2 separate regions of the Homo sapiens genome follow, and region 2 is linked to region 1. The links come from fine-mapping of genetic effects on gene expression. A gene starts in region 1. The other region holds a variant in brackets. All regions are shown on one strand. Distances are between the middles of the regions.

Region 1 (8,000 bases):
TAATTCAAGTACACAAATACCCAAGCTTTTGCCTTTTCCATAGGTGTGTGATGGTTATAAAAATGTACACACAACCTTTTGGGTAACTGATCTTCTTACACGAGCAGAATCAGAAACCTCCATCACTCACAGAGGTTATGCATGCATCCACATATGCACGATTAGATCCTGCATACACGAACGCCCAAGCACAGCAAGTTTCATAGTTGGGCAGATTTATTTATTACATATTCTATATACAGTATAGAGCAGAGTGCATTTGCACACTGGGTTCCCCATACAGAAATATTGATTTGAAATATACATATAGGACACACACATCTATTTACATTAAACACGCGTAAATTTCAGCTAAGCTTATTAATTAAAAACAAACTATTTTTCCCCATTCTCACTTATTGTTTTTCTTTCTTCTCCCATTTCCTTCCCTTCCTCTAGATTTTCTCTCTCTTCTTACTGACAAGGACCCTTCCAAAAGTCACCCCCACAGCATAGGCACTCACCGGCTGGTCGGCCTCTGCTCTTCAAACCTCGGCCTCACTGTTGGCTGCTCTGGGCCCCAGTGTGGCCAGGAGCTGCGCTTTTTTCCCTGCTTGCCCTTCTCCAAGCTACCAGCTACTGGCCCCAGCTGTGTTCAGGCGAGGCTCCAGTGCAGGGAATGGCAAAAGGCTGCAAGGGAAGGCAGGGTTTTCCTTCTTTCTGTTTAGGATTGGGGGTGGGGTATGGAGCAGTTTTGCTCTCTTAGGATAAGGTGACCCCCACTGAAGCAACCCCTTTACTAAGTGTCTTTGGAAGCTGGGCTCCAGGAGCCACAATCCTGTTTGCTATCCTCCTTCATGGTGGGTACCATTGTCTGGGGAGAAAACAAGGCTTTTTTGGTGGGAGGGAGTCCACAGTCTCTCAGCTGACCCTTTAATCATTTGCCTGAGCTGGAGTTGAACTCCAGTTTGGGGCAGCAGTGCTTTCCAGAAAGCTTGGCTGGGGTGGGACTCCTTGCTTGGTGCATTTACCTGGACGGCAAAGAGCTGGGATGCAGACTACAGGGCTTAGGGGCCAGTTCATTCTCTTTCCTCTGGAGTCATTGCTCCCTGAGAAGACCAAGACCTCCAAAACCTGTCATTTTAAAATTGTCTCCACTCTCCAGCTTCTTCATGAGCAAAGGCTAAGTTCCGATCTCAGAAAAGAGGCCTAAGTCCCCTTCTCACCCAGCACTCAGGAGCCACCAGGGAATAAAGGGCAACTCCTCAGACAGACAGCAACCCACAAACCCAAATCTTGTCTGCTGGGAGAACTCACCCTTGTAGAGCACAAGCCATCAGCCCAAGTGTTCTTCTTCCTCTAACTTCTTCCCTAAACTGAGTGGTCCTCTTGACTCCTCTCTTGTTGCAGAGAGGCAGCTGCAAAGTCAGGGCAGGAGAGGGAAGGGGAACCAGGAAGACGGCAGTCAGAGCGCAGTGCCTGCTTTGCTTGGGTCTTAAGGACAGCCCAGCGCTGTGACTTTTCAATAAATAAAAAAACCCCAGTCCGTAGTAAACATGTCCTTTTAGGCCCTAATTTATATACTACAGAAATCATATACTCAGCCCACCATGCTTCATAACACCATTATTTATGGCGGGGGAGGGAATCTTTTTTCCTGAAGAGTGTATTTATGACAGGTAAAGCCAACAGCAGACTTCATAGGGCTGGCAAATTGAGAACAGGTGCTTTGCCTTAACTGTGATTCATTCGCTCAGTGCCCAGCTTTTTCGCTGGTGAGTCCGGGGAGCTCCCTCGACTTTCCCAAGCGTCCAACCTCTGCTTGGAAGAATTTGCATCGGATTTTTGTTTCCCCACTTGGGTCCTATGGAAAAGGCAGACCTTCATGCTGTTTGGTTACGGATCTGCCGGGCTGTCACCCTCGGAGAGCAGGGGTGGGAAAGGAGGGGGCCAGATGGGCGCCGGCATTGATCTTTAAAAAATCATTTTGAAATCGCCATAATGTGAAGAAATATGGCGCTTCACCCTCGTATTTCACGTGTAATGACACGAGATGGCTTCATTTGGAAAGACAAGCGGGTGGGAGTGTGTGCCTGTGTGGGAGGTGATCCGCAGCCTTCTACAAGGCAGAGGGGTAGGTGGCCAAAAAGATACGGACTCAAGTTAGAGTGGCCCCTCTTTTGCTAAAAGGACCGGACTGAGGGCAGCCTGCCTTATTAGGACTCAGAGTCAGAGAGTTGCCGAGAAATCCACCCCAATCTACCCCTGAGCCTAACCAGAGGAGAACTGGGTCTGTCCAGGGGTCACACCTCCCCAAGTGCCAGGAGAGGCGACTGCAACCAGGGCAGAAGCTGAGGAGCAGGGGCTGGGAGAGGAGCGAGGAAGCCAGTCGGTGGGCCCCGGGGGAGTCCCTGTGCAGGGCCACAGAATAGATATATATAAAAAGGGCTATTTGGAAGCTCCAATGAAGGGGTCTGCAGGGGGTAAGGCAGTGAGGGGAAGAGACTGACCATGGGCTCGCTGTCCACACTGGCCCCTATATCGGTGTTTGGAAATCTCCAGAGCAGGAGCCTCAGGTGAGAGGAGTAGTACAGGAGGGCTGAAAACTCAGCCCAGGCTCCTTCCTCTTTGGATGGAAGGGGAGATAACTTGGGACCCCTTCCCTTGCTGACTGGGGATCCTTTCCCAGGCCTCTGCTCTGGTCACACCTCAGGAAAGTGGCCTTAACCCTTTCTCCTATTTAGCTCCCTCATCAGGGCAAATTTAGGGGCCTGGGTGGTTATTCAGTGGAGAAAAGGAGAAATGGCTTCCCTCACCCCCACCCCCCACGTCACCACCACCATCTTAAATCCATCCTTCTGGCCAGAGTCAGAGAAAGGCCCAATAAATGTAAAGGCGCTCTGGTTCCTTGTATTAAACTCTTTCCTAGGCTCACGTTTCCGGGACCTGATGGATCCCTTTAACCTCAAGTAGTTTCTAATTTCAGGACAGATAGTGGATTCTTGGACACTCAGTCGTTTTATTCACCTCTCTCCTCCTCCCTCAGCTACTGAGGGGCCCAGGGAAGCTCGCAGTCATGTAAATCTCTACAAAGAGTGCAAGGAGAGCCCCCTCCAAAGCGGACAACGTCCTAAAATCCCCAACTTTTCCCCTCATCATTTTACTTCATCTCCTGTGGATTGCTGCTGCTGTTGTTGTTTAATAAACATCTTTTGTCAAGGGGAAAGAGAAGAGGAAATGAGGGCCTGCGGGGTGGAGGTGTGTGTGGGGGGACAGGAGCACCTCCTCTTCCAGTATCCTCTCGGGCCTCTATGGCTTCTCCCCGGGCTGGGGCTCTCTCCCTCCCTCCGCCCTTGCTCTCCCTCCCTCCCCGACCCGCCTGGGGAGAGGGCTCTACAGCCTGCGTCCCTCCCAAGGCAGCCCGCCGCTTCCCTCCGCCTCTCCTCCGCCCCCGCCGCCCCATGTTGAGAACTGCCCCCCTTCCTGCAGCGGGAGGGGGGGACCGGGCGGCCGGTAGCTGGGGCTGAGGTTACGTGGCCGCCGGAGCCCTGACGTGATAGCACATTGCATCAGCATAAAACAATCCATCCTCGATATGGAGTGCGGTGCGGACGGATGACAGCGAGAGCGCAGCCCCCTCGCCCGATTGATTTATGTCGGAGCTGACGCTTTATCAGGCAGTCGGAAAAACTTTGACCAATCATTTTGCAAGGAGAGCTGAGACGGGCTGCTCCACTGTACTTTGTTGGCTGAGAAGTTGAGCAGGGGGTGGGGGTGGGAGGGTGGGGGGCTGGGGGGGTCGCGTCCGAAAGCCCTCACACCGGTCCGGGTGCCACCTCTCCCTGCTTGGGCGCCGCCGCGCGAGCGCTTCCCTTCCCCCTGCAAGCGCCCGGATAATGTCTGAGAATGTCCATTTCTGGGACGCTTAGCAGCTATTATGTCGACTCGATCATAAGTCACGAGAGTGAGGACGCGCCTCCAGCCAAGTTTCCTTCTGGCCAGTACGCGAGCTCGCGGCAGCCGGGCCACGCGGAGCACCTGGAGTTCCCCTCGTGCAGCTTCCAGCCCAAAGCGCCGGTGTTCGGCGCCTCCTGGGCGCCGCTGAGCCCGCACGCGTCCGGGAGCCTGCCGTCCGTCTACCACCCTTACATCCAGCCCCAGGGCGTCCCGCCGGCCGAGAGCAGGTACCTCCGCACCTGGCTGGAGCCGGCGCCGCGCGGCGAAGCGGCCCCGGGGCAGGGCCAGGCGGCGGTGAAGGCGGAGCCGCTGCTGGGCGCGCCTGGGGAGCTGCTCAAACAGGGCACGCCCGAGTACAGTTTGGAAACTTCGGCGGGCAGGGAGGCCGTGCTGTCTAATCAAAGACCCGGCTACGGGGACAATAAAATTTGCGAAGGAAGCGAGGACAAAGAGAGGCCGGATCAAAGTAAGTTATAAAAAGTGAGGAAATACCCAGGCCGAAGGCCAGGAGGGGGGCGGGGAGGGGAAAGGCAATAAACTGCGGACAATGTGAAGGGAAACTGCGGCGGTGGCCGGAGAGCGGGCCGGGAGGAGGAGGGGAGAGGAAGGAAAGACGGAGGGAAGGGGAAAGCTGCGTGCTCTAGAAGGGGAGACTGAGGCCGCCAGAGGAGCGCTGCCCCCACTTCTCCAAGTCCTGCGGGGAACAGGGGCTCGGGGATCGACTTGCAGCTCTCTCGGCCCTCTTTCCCCCTCTCTCCCGGAGGCCCCAGCTGAAAGCCCGGCCAGAGACCGGCGACGGCCGGGAGAGGAGCTGGCGGGGGCCGGGGCCAGCGGCCAGCGAGGCCGAGAGCCGGCGAGGGCAAGGGCCGGAGCGCACTGGGCTGCCCGGGGCCGTGCGGCTGGCAGAGCTCCCCGCGCCACGCGCAGACCGTAAAAGCCGGCCAAGGGGAAGGGGGAGGGAGCTCATTAGGATTTTATTTGCGATGCAACAGCTTGGCGGAGGATTGTTCCTAGCAGATCTCGCGCTGTAGCCGCGCAGAGTCCGCAACCGGCGACAGGAGGGGCGGGGGAAGCCCAGGACGCGGTGACTGAGCCCCCTCCCCGGATGCGCCGGCCCCTCCCCGGGAGCCTTCCCTCCGGTGGCCCCTCTCCTCCTCGGCGTCCTCGCAGGGGCTACCGCTTCCTTTTCTGCGGTCCCCCGCTGCTCTCTGCGGGGCTCCCGAGCCCCAGCCCGGGCTGTCCGCCTCTTGGGGAGTCGGGGAATCGCTTCCGAATATCGGGGCATCTCGAAGGGACCCCGGGGAGAGGAGGGGTGGGGGGAAGAGAGAGTTGCAGAGAGGCGGAGAACTTTACCCTTTGTGGGTAGTTTCCCGTCACCTCCCACTCCTCAAAAGCACCCCGGCCAGAACGCCAAGTCTGGCTGATTTTCAGGAGGTGCTACTAGATGAGAAGAGAGGGTTCTCCTATTATTTATTTTTAAGGTTGAGAAGGGCTCATCGGTGAGGGAACTCAGCCTCAAACAATGACTCGCAGGCTGGTGGATCAGGTCCTCGTTTCTTACTCTTTTTGGGAAGTAGGGATGTTTTAGTCTCTCCTTGCCCTGCTAGATTTCCCATTGACGGAGTGGCCCCAGGGCCCTTTAGAGCATCCTTGCCTGCTGGAGAGTAAAGAGCAGCCCCATTCCTTGCAGGGTCCTGTCACCTCCAACCTGCCAGGTGGAATCCTAAGAGCTGGCATTTAGGGAACACATTCTTCCCCAACCCTCCCCGCACACTCCCAAACAGATCCCCCACCCTAAACCCCCAAATTCTGCCTGAAAAGCCCATTATGGCAAGGCAGCCATTTGGCTAGGATCAATTATTAACAGTTTTTTCCCTCTTTCATATTTAATGCGGCTGCGGGTCCCATCCCAGGCAATCACATTAAGGAAATAGCGCTGCAAATTGGTAAGACACGGTACTTAGTGTAGGATGAACCAAATTTTTTATATAAAAAAATCCAGTGTTTTTCACTTGGGGAGAAGGAAGCTAGTAGCTGGTGGCTGTTATTTTTAATTGGCTTAGCTTTATTTGGCAACTTTTTTGAGTTCCAGAGTAGGGGGAGAGAAGGTAAGAAGAGAAGCCTGTATATATTTTTGTTTCCTCTCTTCCACTCGGTTACCCTCTTCTCCCCTCCAGCCCCCACATAGGATCAATTAAGGCTAGGTGTGCTGTGAAGGGCTTCCTTTTACCTCCACATCACCCCTGGCTCCCCACCTTGGGACTGGAGCAATTTTATTCCCTAATTTCCCTGCACTTGCGTTAACCAAACTGTGAGCTGAGCAGGAGCTGAAAAGGAGAGAGACTATTGCAACCATAAGTTATCTGTGAGCCCCCAGTGCTCCCCTGTCCATAAGCTGGAGTTGATAAATGGTTGCAATTGCATTGCGTGTGAATTGGAGTGTGCTGGCTGTTTGTGGCTCTAAGTGCAGACCCATATTCGTGGTGTGTGGTGGTGGCAGGGGGGGAGATTTCTACGCAGACACACATGCCTGCTGCCATGTGGTCTAGAGACACAAGCTTGTTTGTGATCAAGGCAGGGGATATTGGGACTGGACTGAAGGGCTGAGAGGTCTCTTGGGGTGAAGTGACACCCCAAATGCAGTGACTGAACAGACATCTCACTTCCCCACCCAACTCCTCCTCTCACCTCCTAGAGCCAGGACCCTTCAGGTCAGCCACCCACCCCTAGTCAGCCTGGGAGTGCTGCTGGTGGGACTTCAACCATGCTGAACTCTGACCTGAGTCCTAAGCAGTTTGGACCCAAGTAGAGAAAAATTGAGAGGGAACTTGATGTAGGCAGAGCTTTGGAAGTGCTGAGGAAGCCTGGGCCCACGTTTGGCTCCATCCTTTCCACACAGCCTCTCACCTGGAGGTGTCTATAGCAATGGCTGGCCCATCTGTGACACCCTTCCTGGGAGCTTGAAGACCCAGGTGGCCTCTTCTCCAGTGCAAGATGGGGAGTGGAGACCAAGGGAGTGCCCTCTTGATCTGGGGCCCTTCACCCCCTTCCTTTCTTTGATTCTATCGCTGCTTCTCTTTCAGCCAACCCCTCCGCCAACTGGCTGCACGCTCGCTCTTCCCGGAAAAAGCGCTGTCCCTACACCAAATACCAGACGCTGGAGCTAGAGAAGGAGTTTCTGTTCAATATGTACCTCACCAGGGACCGTAGGCACGAAGTGGCCAGACTCCTCAATCTGAGTGAGAGACAAGTCAAAATCTGGTTTCAGAACCGGCGGATGAAAATGAAGAAAATGAATAAGGAGCAGGGCAAAGAGTAAAGATTAAAGATTACCCCCAGTCCTCCCTAGCTCTTCCCCATCTCACTCTTAGTTATGTGACGACTGCAAAGCCAGTGCTGTCTGGGATGTATTCAAGTGAATGGGGAAGGGAGTCTCTCTTCCAAGTCCTTTATCTGCACCTAGAACCTCCCTCCTTTCCTTTGCCCTTACCTGTCTCTCTCTTCTCTCTAGGTGTCAGGAGAAAGTTTTGTTGATTTAGAAGATAGAAATAGTTGGTTCCTAAGAATGTGATGGGCCACAAGGAAAGAGAGACCCCAGTCAAGCTCCTAGTATGCCCTGTAATTTTTCTGGGAAGTCCTAGCCCCTCACTTCCAGCTTGCCTGTTTCTTCTCTACACCCACCCAAAAGTCACCCAGGGACACTCCAACTCTACACAGCTCAGCAGACATCCACACACAGTAATGGGGTGAGCTCACAACCACCATTCAGTCAAGTGAGGTGACACTCCAGTTGCAGACCATCGCACACCAAATTTGGCAAAACAGCCCTCAGACTGTCAGGCAAGCCCGGGTTCTACCCCTAATGCAAATACCCACCAGGGAGATGTCTAGAGGCAGACTCCTGAGTGAGGTGTTGCAGCCCAAAGGCTGCAGCATTGCCATACCATTCCCATGGAGTTGCCAACTATTCTCAGGCCAAGGGCCATGGGGAAGATGGAGCAAACCTAGCCCCCAAGCCGGTGGGCTAGAAAGTACAAGAAAAGGCAGCACGTGGTTTTATGAAG
Region 2 (12,290 bases), 24 kb before region 1:
CAAAACTGGAATAAGGTCTCCAGGTGAGCTAATAGTATTGTATCAATGTCAATCTTTTAGTTTGGATGGTAGTTTTGTGGATGTTACCGTATGAAGAAATTGGGAAATAGGTTTATGGAAATTTTTTGGGCAATTTTGTAATTCTTCATAAGTATAATATTATTGCAAATTATAAAGTTTTAAAATGTTTTACCTTTAAATGACTATTTCAGACAAAAGCTAAAAGAAACTGTCGCCAGCATACCTGCAGTATACAAATGTTAAATATGCATATAAATATAAAACACCTTATTTCATTTTAATATATTTAAAAGACAATTTACTATTTAAGCAAAACATAATAGCAATGTACTGCAGGGCTCATAGCTACAGATAAATTATATGTCAGCAATAGCCACAAAAGAGAAGGAAATAGAAGTATACTATTGTATCACCATACATGAGGTAATATTCTTTTTATTTTATTTTTAATTTTTTTAGAGACAAGCTCTTTCTCTGTAGCCCAGGCTGGAGAGCAGTGATGTGATCGCAGCTCACTGCAGCCTCGAACTTCAGGGCTCAAGCAATCCTCCCCACTTAGCCTCCTGAGTAGCTGGGACTATAGGCACACAGCACTACGCCCAGCTAAGTGATATAATATTCTTTGCAGATAGACCGTGATAAGTTAAAGATGCAAATTATAAATCTCAAATGTGATGGTTAATTTTATGTGTCAACTTGACTAGGCCATGGGGTGCCAGATATTCAGTTAAACATTATTCTGGGTACGTCTACAAGGGTGTTTCTGCATGACATTATTTGAATCAATAGACTGAGTAAAGCACATTGCCCTCCCTAATATGGGTGGACCACATCCAATCGATTGAAGAACTGACAAGAACAAAAAGGCGCTCCTGCCAGTAGTGGAAGGCTCTCCCTGCCTGAATGTTTTTGAGCTGGAACACTGATCTTCTCCAGCCTTTAGACACAGATTCAGACTGGAGTTATGCCACTGATGCTCCTGGGTCCCCAGCTTGTCAACTGCAGATCTTGGGACTTCTCAGCCTCCATAATCATGCAAGCCAATTCCTTATAGTAAATCCTCCTCTGTCTGTCTATCTATCTATCTATCTATCTACCTATCTATCTCCTATAGGTTTTGTTTTTCTGGAAAAATCTGACTAATACATTAAAATAACAGTAACCACTAAAAATTAAAACAAAAAAGTAGGGTTAATAAGCCAACAGTTAGTTGAAATGAAAGAAATCCTGACCAGGCCCAGTGACTCACACCTGTAATTCCAGCACTTTGGGAGGCCGAGGCTGGCAGATCACCTGAGGTCAGGAGTTCGAGACCAGCCTGGCCAACATGGTGAAACCCCATCCCTACTAAAAATACAAAAATTAGCCGGGCATGGTGGCATGCGCCTGTAATCCCAGCTGCTCCAGAGGCTGAGACAGGAGAATCGCTTGAACCCAGGAGGCGGAGGTTTCAGTGAGCCAAGATTGTGCCATTGCACTCTAGCCTGGGGAACAAGAATGAAACTCCGTCTCAAAAACAAAACAACAACAACAAAAAGAAATCTTAAAACATATTCAATCTAAAAAAAGGCAGAAAAAGAGGAAAAGGGGAACAAATAACAGATAGTATAAATAAAAAACAGATAGCAAGATGGTAGATTTCAACTTAACCAAGTCAATAGGTTTAAATATCAATATAAGAGTAGAGATTGTCAGACTGAATAAAAACACAAGACTCGCCTGTAGTCCTAGCTACTCAGGAGGCTGAGGCTGGAGAACCGCATGAACCCGGGAGGCGGAGCTTGCAGTGAGCCGAGATTGCACCACTGTACTCCAGCCTGGGTGACAGAGCAAGACTCCATCTCAAAAACAAACAAACAAACAAACAAACACAAGACTCAACCATATTCTGCCCACAATAAATCGCTTTTAAATATAGAGACACAGATAGATCAACAATAAAAGGATAAAAATTCCCATTCACATCAAAAAAAAGTTTGAGTGACTATATTAATATGATATATATATATATTTTTTTGAGACAGGATCTCTGTTGCCCAGGTTGGAGTGCAGTGGTGGTGATCATGGCTCACTGCAACCTTCACCTCCCAGGTTCAAGAGATTCTTGTGCCTCAGCCTCCTCAGAGGCTGGGATTACAGGCACACGCCACCACGCCCGGTTATTTTTTTATTTTTATTTTTATTTTTTGAGACAGAGTCTCGCTCTATTGCTGGAGTGCAATGGTGCCATCTCGGCTCACTGCAACCTCTGCCTCCTGGGTTCATGCAATTCTCCTGCCTCAGTCTCCAGAGTAGCTGGGATTACAGGCATGCACCACCACACCAGGCTAATTTTTGTATTTTTAGTAGAGATGAGGTTTCACCATGTTGGCCAGGCTGGTCTCAAACTGCTGACCTCAAGTGATCCACCCGCCTCGGCCTCCTAAACTGCTGTGATTACAGGTGTGAGCCACCGCGTCTGGCATAATTTGTATACTTTAGTAGAGGTGGGGTTTTGCCATGTTGGCCAGTCTGTCTCAAACTCCTGGACTCAAAAGATCTGCCCACCTCGGCCTCCCAAAGTGCTGGGATTACAGGCATGAGCCACCACGCTGGCCATATATATATATATATATATATATATATATATATATATATATACACACACACACACACACACACACACACACATATACATACTAGTATATATATACATATATAGAATATAGATACATAATCTATTGTATATATATTCTAGTATATATATGTATATATATATATATATATATATATATATATTAGAAAATAAGTTACGCTTTAGAACAAGGACTATAGCCATGGACAAAGAAGAGCATTACATAATGACAAAGGGGTCATTTCACTAAGAAAATATATCAATCCTAAATGTGGTACATACCTAATAATAGAGCTTCAAAAATACATGAAGCACCAAAAATGATAGCATTGAAAGGAGAAATCCACAAATTATAGTTGGATATTTCAACATTCTTCACTTGGTAACTGATAGAAGAAGTAAAAAGAAAATCAGTAAGTATACAGAAGATTTGAACAACATCAAATACTTTGACCTTATCGATCTTTACAGATATTCCACTCAGCAATAGCGGAGTCCACATTCTTTTCAAGTGTACATGGAACATTCACCAAAATAGACCATAATCTGAGCCATAAATTAATTCTCAATAAATTGAGAAGGATTGAAATTATATAAATTATGTTCCCTGACCAGAACAGAAGTAAACTGAAAATCAATAACAACAATAGCCAAAACATCTGGAAATGAAACAACACAAACTTAACCCGTAGATCAAATAAGAAAGCATGAAGAAAATTAGAAAATATTTTGAACTAAAGGAAATTGAACAATACCACATGTCACAAAGTGTAAATGCAGTTAAGGAAGTGCTCACAGGGACATTATAGCATCAAATACTTACATTAGAAGAGAAGAAAGGTCTGGCAGCAACACTTTAAGCTTGCACCTTAAGAAGTTAGAAAAAAATAAAAGAGCAAATTAAACCCAAAGTAAGCAGAAGGAAGGAAATAATATAGATGAGTGAAAATTACTGAAATAGAAAATGTGTAAACAATACAGAAAATGAAACCAGCCAGTTTTAAGAACAGCCAGTTTTTTAAAAGGCAGACTGATCAAGAAAAAAAGAAAAAACACAAATTACCATTATCAGGAATGAATGAACATCACTACAGATCATATAGACATTAAAAAGAAGATACTAAGGAAATATTAGGAACAACTATATGCAAATAAACTCAACACTATGGAATACATTAACAAATTTATTGAAAAACACAAACTACCAAAGCTTTCCCAAGAAGAAATATATAATCTGAATAGTCTTATGTATGAAAAGAAATTGAATTTTTTTTTTTTTTTTGAGACGGAGTTTTGCTCTTGTTGCCCAGGCTGTAGTGCAACGGCGCGATCTTGGCTCACAGCAACCTCTGCCTCCCTGGTTCAAGTGATTCTCCTGCCTCAGCCTCCCGAGTAGCTGGGATTACAAGCATGTGCCACCACGCCCGGCTAATTTTGTATTTTTAGTAGAGACAGTGTTTCTCCATGTTGGTCAAGGTGGTCTCAAACTCCAGACCTCGGGTGATCCACCTGCCTTGGCCTCCCAAAGTGCTGGGATTACAGGCGTGAGCCACTGTGCCCGGCAAGAAATTGAATTTGTATCAGAACTCTTCCCACAGCTGTGCATGGAGGCTCATGCCTGTAATCCCAGTGCTTTTTTAAATAAGCCAGGAGTGGTGGCACACGCCTGTAGTCCCAGATACTTGGGAGGCTGAGGCGGGAGGATCACTTGAGCCCAGAAGTTCAAGGCTGCAGTGAGCTATGATTGTGCCACTGTACTCTGGCCTAGGTGACAGAGAGAGACCCTATCTTAAAAAAAAAAAAAAAAAAAAGGCCAGGCCCAGTGGCTCAAGCCTGTAATCCCAGCGCTTTGGGAGGCCGAGGTGGGCGGATCACGAGGTCAGGAGATCGAGACCATCCTGGCTAACACGGTGAAACCCCGTCTCTACTAAAAATACAAAAAATTAGCCAGGCGTAGTGGTGGGTGCCTGTAGTCCCAGCTACTCGGGAGGCTGAGGGAGGAGAATGGCGTGAACCCAGGAGGCGGAGGTTGCAGTGAGCCGAGATTGCGCCACTGCACTCCAGCCTGGGCAACAGAGCGAGACTCTGTCTCGAAAAAAAGAAAAGAAAAAAAGCCAAAGAACAAAAAACTACAGTGAGCCATCACCTCACACCCATTAGGATAGACACTATCAAAAAACAAAACAAAACAAAACAAAAATTAACAGGTGCTGACAAGGATGTGGAGTAATTTGTACGCTGTGCTCTGTTGGTGGGACTGTAAAATGGTGCAGCCACTACGGAAAACAGTATGCAGATTCCTCAGAAAAATTAAAAATAGGATTACCATATGACTCAGCAATACTACTTCATTTATTTATTTATTTATTTATTTATTTATTTATTTATTTATTTTGAGATGGAGTTCTGCTCTTGTTGCCCAGGTTGGAGTGCAATGGTGCGATCTTGGCTCACTGCAACCACCGCCTCCCAGGTTCAAGTGACTCTCCTGCCTCAGCCTTCCGAGTAGCTGGGATTACAGGTACCCGCCATCATGCCCGGCTAATTTTGTGTTTTTAGTAGAGATGGGGTTTCACCATGTTGGTCAGGCTGGTCTCGAACTCCTAACCTCAGGTGATCCACCTGCCTCGGCCTCACAAAGTGCTGGGATTACAGGCATGAGCCACTGCACCTGGCCAATACTACTTCTTAATATATACCCAAAAGGACTGAGAGCAAGAGAGAGCTTGAGGAGATACTTGCACACCCATATTCATTGCAGCACTGTTCACAACAGCTAAGAGGTGGGAGCAAACTAAACGGCCATCAATGGATGAATGGATAAGCAAAATGTAGTATATAAATATAATGGAATATTACTTAGCCTTTAAAAATAAAGAAATCCTGTCACATGCTACAGTGTGGGTGAAACTTGAAGACATGCAAAGTGAAACAAATCAGTCAGAAAAAGACAAATACAGTATGATTCCACTTATATGAGGTATCTAAAGTATTCAAACTTATAGAAACAAAGTAAAATGATAATTGCCAGGTGCTGGGGAAAGAGGGGAATGGGGGGGCGGTTTTTACTCAGTGGGTATTGAGTCCCGTTTTGAAAGATGGAAATATTCTAGAGATCTGTGGCACAACAGTGTGAATGTGCTTAACATACTGAATTGTACACTTAAACAAGGTTAAGATGGTAAAATTTATTATATGTTTTTACCACAATTTTTTAAATGTACAAAAAAAAAAAAAAAAAACAACTCCGAAAAGCAAACAAGCAAAAAACCTCATTGCAAGATTACCACAAACCCACCAGAATGAAGAGAGACAGTGTCAGGTGTTGGTAGGGATATGCAGTAACTGGATCCTGAGTCCTCTCTGTCATTTTTTTTTTTTGTAAAGCTTACTTCTCTATGGATCTCACACATTACTAGTGGGAGTGTAAACTGGTCAACCACTTTGGAAAACTGTCATTATTTAACAAACAAACATTTTCCTACTCTGTTATCCAGCATTTCCACTCCTGGGTCTCCAAGTCCAGGCATCCATCAAAAGACACAGATGTAATGTTCATAACAGCTTTTTCATTATAGCTCCAAACTGAAAATAACCCTTAAGTCCACCAAGAGCCAAACAGGTTAAATACATTGTAATATATTCATACAACTAATATGACACAATGATAAAATGAATGAACTGCTGCCATATACAACACCATGGATGAGTCCCACACAAGTAATACTGAGCAGATGAAGCCAGACAAAAGAATACATACTTATGTTTATATGAAGTTGAAGGATTAGACAAAACTAATCTATGGTGATAGAAAGCCAAATAATTGTTAGGGGGTATGGAGGGATTGACCAGAGAGCTATTGATTGGTAGGAGTTACAATGGGGCCTTCTGGTAAGCCGGAAACATCTTGATCTAGGTGGTGGTTACACAGATGGGATCTATGCAAAAATATATTGAGCCAGAGGTTTAATATTAGGTTCTATAATACTATATATCAACAAAAAGTGAAGAAAAAGTAGAAAAATAGACCCAAATAGAAAAAATTCTGGGGCCGGGCATGGTGGCTCACGCCTGTAATCCCAGCACTTTGGGAGGCTGAGGCGGGCGGATGACCTGAGGTAGGGAGTTCGAGACCAGCCTGACGAACTGGAGAAACCCCATCTCTACTAAAAATACAAAATTAGCTGGGCGTTGGCCGGGTGCAGTGGCTCATGCCTGTAATCTCAGCACTTTGGGAGGCTGAGGCGGGCGGATCACCTGAGGTCGGGAGTTCGAGACCAGCCTGACCAACATGGAGAAACCCCGTCTCTATTAAAAATACAAAAAATTAGCTGCGCATGGTGGCACATGCCTGTAATCCCAGCTACTAGGGAGGCTGAGGCAGGAGAACCCGGGAGGCAGAGGTTGCGGTGAGCTGGGATTGTGCCATTGCACTCCAGCCTGGGCAACAAGAGCGAAACTCTGTCTCAGAAAAAACAAACAAACAAAAAAACAAAAACAAAACAAAACAAAAACATTTTGGAAGCAAAATTTAGTTTTGTCATATTTCTATATTCATGTTTACGTGGATATAGAATAAAATTCCCATTTGGATGCATTTTTCTCTCAGCGGTTCAAGCTCAACAGAACCTGCAAATGAGAGGAGGCTGCAGAAGCAAAGCATAAGAAGACATATCATGGCTAGGAGCCGTGGCTCACACCTCTAATCCCAGCACTTTGGGAGGCTGAGGCAAGCGGATCACCTGACGTCAGGAGCCGAGACCAGCCTGGCCAACATGGTGAAAACCCGTCTCTACTAAAACTACACAAATTAGCTGGGCGTGGTGGCACACACCTGTGGTCCCAGCTACTCGGGAGGCTGAAGTGGGAGAATCGCTTGAACTCAAGAGGCGGAGGTTGCAGTGAGCCGAGATTGCACCATTGCACTCCAGCCTGGGTGACAGATCAAGACTTCATCTCAAAAAAGAAGACACATCAATCCTAAATCTAAATGTGGTACACACCTAGGAAGACACATCAACCTTAAATGTACACACCTAATAACAGAGCTTCAAAAATATATGAAGCACCGAAAATGATAGAATTGAAAGGAGAAATGGACAAATCCACAATTATAGTAAGATATTTCAACAGTTCTCACTTGGTAAAATCACTTGTAAAATCACTCTGCCCATTTTACAGAGGAAAAACTGAGGCCTAAAAGGAGAAGGGGTGGGGGCTGAAGTCAGTGGCAGAGCCAGGCTTAGGACACAGAGCTCAGGCACACCTCTACATGCCCCCTGGACAACCACCTGCAGGAAGGGACTGGATTGTGAGGGGGTGTCCCCAGTCCCATGCAGGTTGAGGAGGAAGCAGGGTCTCAGGGCTGAGGTCAGGGAGGGGGGGCACTCCTTAGAGACCAGACAGCCAGGAATGCCACTGTTTGTCGTAGTTTCACTGATTTTAAGGAGGTTAAACCTCTATTTGGGTCTCAGAAATAAAGAGAAGAGCCTGCAATTCCAGGATAGCACGCTAACGAAGGGCCAAAACGCAAAGGCGTCCTGAGGGCTAAGATGGAAAGTGAAACTTTCAAGCTCCTTCTCTAACCTTGGCCAAGGTCGTTCCCTCTGGGTTCATAGAATAGGGAGGAACCCATGTAAGGCACAGGGAACAGAAGAAAGGAGGCAGGTAGAGGGACAACCTTCAGCCTGGTGCAGCCATCCCGGT[C/G]GAACAACCCCAGGCAGGAGCCGCTCGGTGGCCGAGGATGGCGGGAAGTCGCTGGGCTGCGGCTGGGGCGGGAGGTGGGCGGAGGAGGGTCCGGCGCTCTCTTTCTCCGGATTCGGAGCCCTAAGTGTGGATCAGTCGCCTCCCGCCCAGGGTGTGAGCGCCCCCTCCCCTTCTCAGCCTCCTTCGGCCTCGCCCCTCCCTCTCACATTTCCAACTCCCAAGGATAACTTGTCGCTCGCTTCAGACGCCCATGGCTTCTTTCAGCCCCTGGGACTCAGCTTTCTCCTCTACCTCTTTTGTCTATTTGTGCATTTGATGTTTCTCTGGGCGCGCCCTTGGATCTGCTTCTCTCTTGCCTTTTATATTCTCATATTCTCATATTCTCTCTCTCTCTCTCTCTCTCTCTCTCTCTCTCCCTCCCTCCCTCCCTCCCTCTCTCCCTCCCTCTCTCCCTCTCTGCCTCTCTCCCTCTCTCTCTCTTCTCTCTCTCTCTCTCTTCTCTCTCTCTTCTCTCTCTCTCTGCTCTCTCCGGCCATCTGGGCGCTGCTCCTCCGCGCCTCTGGCCTCCCCGCGGCGCGCCAGGCCCATCTCCTCACCAGCCGCTCTGGGATCCGACGGCGCCGTGGGTGGGGGCAGGTGAGACGGCCGAGCCCCGCCCGGGCGGAGGCAGGAAGCGCTCTCGCCTATCCCCCTCCCGGACCCTGTCCTCGCCCGCCACTCACCGGCGCCAGGGGAACGCAGGAGCGTGAGCCCCTTCGCGCCCCCAGCGCCGTCGGCGTCGCTGCCCCAGACACAGACACTGCCTCGAGAGGCCTCACAGAGGCGGGGGCAGAAGGCGGCGACCCAGAGCCGCCACATCCCCCGCCTTGGGCGCCGTCACAGTCCCCAGACGCCCTGGACTCCTGCAGTCTACGAAGACGCGCGGGGGACGGCGTGGTTCCGAGAGGTAGGTGAGGAGGCGGGCGCAGCCCTTCCTCTCGCAGCTGGGGACTGCGGCGTGAAAGGCCCCTCTCCAAGCTGGGCAGCCCCGTGGCCCGAGCTTTCAGGACCAACCGCCCGTGGCAGGCGTGGGCTTCCCGGGGCCACCGGCTTAACCTTGATCTCCAGACCGAGGCAGCTTCCCGGGTAGGGCCTCGGGGCGCACCCGAAAACGCCTTGGCCTCCCTGTCCGCTGGCACCCGACCCTACCTCTCCAACAGGTGTGTGTGTGGGGAAAGGGGGTCGCCTCCCCTCGTTCTACCGGAAACCCTGGCTCCCCAGAGCCGAGTGCTCAGTGCCCCGCCCAGCCTGAGGCCCTGCGTCCTGGGCCTCCTGCTCACAACCCCGGATTCCAGGCGGATGCCGTGAGAGAGGCAAGGGCCAGACGCCCTGAGCAGCCTTGGGGGTGAGGAATCGCTTGGGATGGAAGAAGGGCCACTTTTCCTAACGGAAATTAGGAATTGGCCTGGAACTCTTGGTCTAGACAGAAGCCCCCAGCTCCCCAAGGTGCAGAATCAGCTCTCCCGCGCGCTGTCTCTCTAGCTGCCTCCTGGCGTGGAGGGGGCAGAATACTTGGGGGAGTCTCTTGCTTTGGCTTTTGGGGGCCTCATAGGTTTTCTTCCCCTCTGGACTGTGAGCAGCCTCCTGCCTGAGAGAGCGTGTATCTGAATCTAAGGAATGCCAGGAGACGCCATCTTATTTGAAACCCACACTCACAAAAACGGGGCATGTGCATTTTTGTGGAGGGACCTGTTGTTTATGGGAGTGGGCAGAGGGCATCCAAAGGATTTCAAACTGTATGGACTGACTCATGGGTCAATACAAAAATTATTCGCCTTTGAAAAGGCATGTAAAGAAAAGCAAGCATAAAGGGGTGTGCATCGTGCATCGTGGGTATTGTGGAGTCTGAGAGGAATTAGTAACTCGCCGGAGTCGGCTAGGAATCTTATATGACAGCAACTGTGCCTCTCGGAGTAGTCAAGCACCGTTTAAAGATTGAGGATTTATACAGACATGCGAAAGAGATGTGAAATTATGTGCTCCCAACTGTGCTCAATAATAAAGGCAGTAGAAGGGAAATTCATATTTTCATCTATATGCCTCCCCCCTCGCAAAGTAGAACATTGCATGGTATATTTCACATAGTCCACATACCAGAGGCGGAATGTGCAACTGACTGCCCAGGACTGTGCTTTCCAGTACAAATGGAAGCACAAAGATGCCTAATGGAGAAGAGTTAAGTGAAAGTTCTCTTTTCTCAGTGCACTTCCCTAACCCTTTGAGGAAGCAAGTCTGGGGGGCCTTTCCTGATAGGATCTTCCCTCCAAATCCCTTTTGGAGCTGGAGCTCCTCTCTTTCCCTAAAGTCTGGCGCACTTGGCTCCAAGTCCCCATTTCTCCAGTCCAGAAGGGATGAAGCCTCCTCCACCCCAAACATATAGCCTTTGGCTCGCTGGGAGGAGAATTGCTCACCTTCTGCGGTGGTTTAGAACACCACCCTACACAGGGATACACATACACAGTGCCCCAGAGGAAATGCAAAGAAAGGTTTTGCTAGTCCAAGCAAGGTGTTGTGGGAGACCTCAGAGACCCTTAGAAAGAGCCTCACTCCCCACACTGCAACTTGAAAGACCCAGGACATCCCTCCCACCCCCAGGACAGACAGGGTTCTCACCAGCTGGGAACGCACAGAGCCCGTGACAACAGGAGGATCTGTTGGGCTGGGAACTTCACATCCCACCCACCCTGCCTCCAACTTCTTTTTTTTTCTGGCCAGATTAAAAGTCAAGCTTAAAGTGCTGTTGGGTTAGAGAGTTTCATTGTTTTAGTCTATTGGTTTCTCTCCCTCATTTTCTTCTCCCTCATCTCCCTTTTACTCCCAGGTTTTGCCCATTTTTTTTCTCTCTCTCCACACAGAAAATCTGTGAATTTTCTGGGCTTGAACGGAAGGAATGAGGAGGGAAAGGAGGGAATATTTGACCTATCCAGGCAGCACTCAGAGCTGTAATTGACACCAAGTCATCCTAGTAGACCTTGTCCTCACAGGCTTAGAGGATATTTGATTCCAGAATCCCCCACCAGCACCCCAAGATCCAGTGGTACCTCCTTCCTCCTTGGGGCTTCTATAGTTTTCAAAAATGGGAGAAATCAAAAATGCCATCATTATTCCAGTGACCGGGTGTGGAGGGAGTCTGCAGTTTGGCCAGAGGCCTGGTCTCAGAGAAAGGAGTCCTGAGGGCTGGGGGGTTGGGGCAAGGCCTAGGGCCAACTTGGTTCTGACCTTGCCTGCCAGTAGAGAATCTTGGGCTCTTCACCAAGTAAAGGCAAGATCAAGGGACTGGAGGTCTGAGTCCCTCTCTTGCCTAACTGCCCCAAGGGCCCCAGAAACTACTCTGGGCCAAAAATCAGTAATAGTTGAAAGAAAGAAACAAATACTGAAAACACCCAGATTTATAATCTGCTTAGACACCCAAACTCATCCTTAAAGCAGTAAATAAAATTTATCTCCTTGACTGCCTTGCAACTTTCTACTCAGTTTGGCAATGTGTAGATGGGGTCAGCTTGAGTTTCAGAGCTTGGGGGTCCAGCACTAAATGTCTAGAGAGCTAGATCTGGGGCCTCTCACCCCCTTTCCTCATATACCTCCTCTTGCTTCCTTCCCCTCCCAGGGCTTCTCAGAAAGTGACAGCTGACTTCCTTTTAGAACTGTGAAATCCCACAATTTCAGAGGATTTCAAATTCCTTGAACTTCAGGTTGAGAGCTATTTGGATTAATCAGAGAAGTTTGTGTCTGGAAAATGATGCCAGATTTAGCCAGAAAACTGAAAGACCAAATGCTTTACTTTTTTTTTCCTTTGTCTGATCTCAGTGCTTATCAGGTCAACCTTCACCTTTAAAAACACCCTGGTGGCAGTATTTCTTTGCCATCACTGTCTGTAAAGCAAAGGGCAAGCATCTCAGGGCTTTTAGTT

Evidence for each region. PIP is the estimated chance that this variant, and not a neighbour inherited with it, causes the effect.
Region 2: its variant is the best candidate, but not a certain one, in a credible set for the expression of HOXB9 in whole blood (TOPMed, PIP 0.56).

The regions. Positions count from the first base shown.
Region 1 is chr17:48,622,155-48,630,154 of GRCh38, reverse strand. HOXB9 (homeobox B9) reads left to right here and starts at 3,797. Exons shown (of 2, transcript NM_024017.5): 1 at 3,797-4,402; 2 at 7,020-8,000. The coding sequence starts at 3,886. The coding sequence ends at 7,255. It overlaps HOXB-AS4 (HOXB cluster antisense RNA 4), which reads right to left and starts at 1,457. Exons shown (of 2, transcript NR_046611.1): 1 at 1,297-1,457. RefSeq lists a silencer at 2,701-2,856 and an enhancer at 4,267-4,944.
Region 2 is chr17:48,643,602-48,655,891 of GRCh38, reverse strand. It overlaps LINC03057 (long intergenic non-protein coding RNA 3057), which reads left to right and starts at 9,040. Exons shown (of 2, transcript NR_186590.1): 1 at 9,040-9,287. LINC02086 (long intergenic non-protein coding RNA 2086) reads right to left here. Exons shown (of 8, transcript NR_189645.1): 1 at 9,530-12,290; 2 at 3,459-3,503; 3 at 2,918-3,021. RefSeq lists enhancers at 8,247-8,456, 9,347-9,396, 8,835-9,503 and a silencer at 8,947-9,126. The variant C/G (reference allele first, on the strand shown) is at 8,342.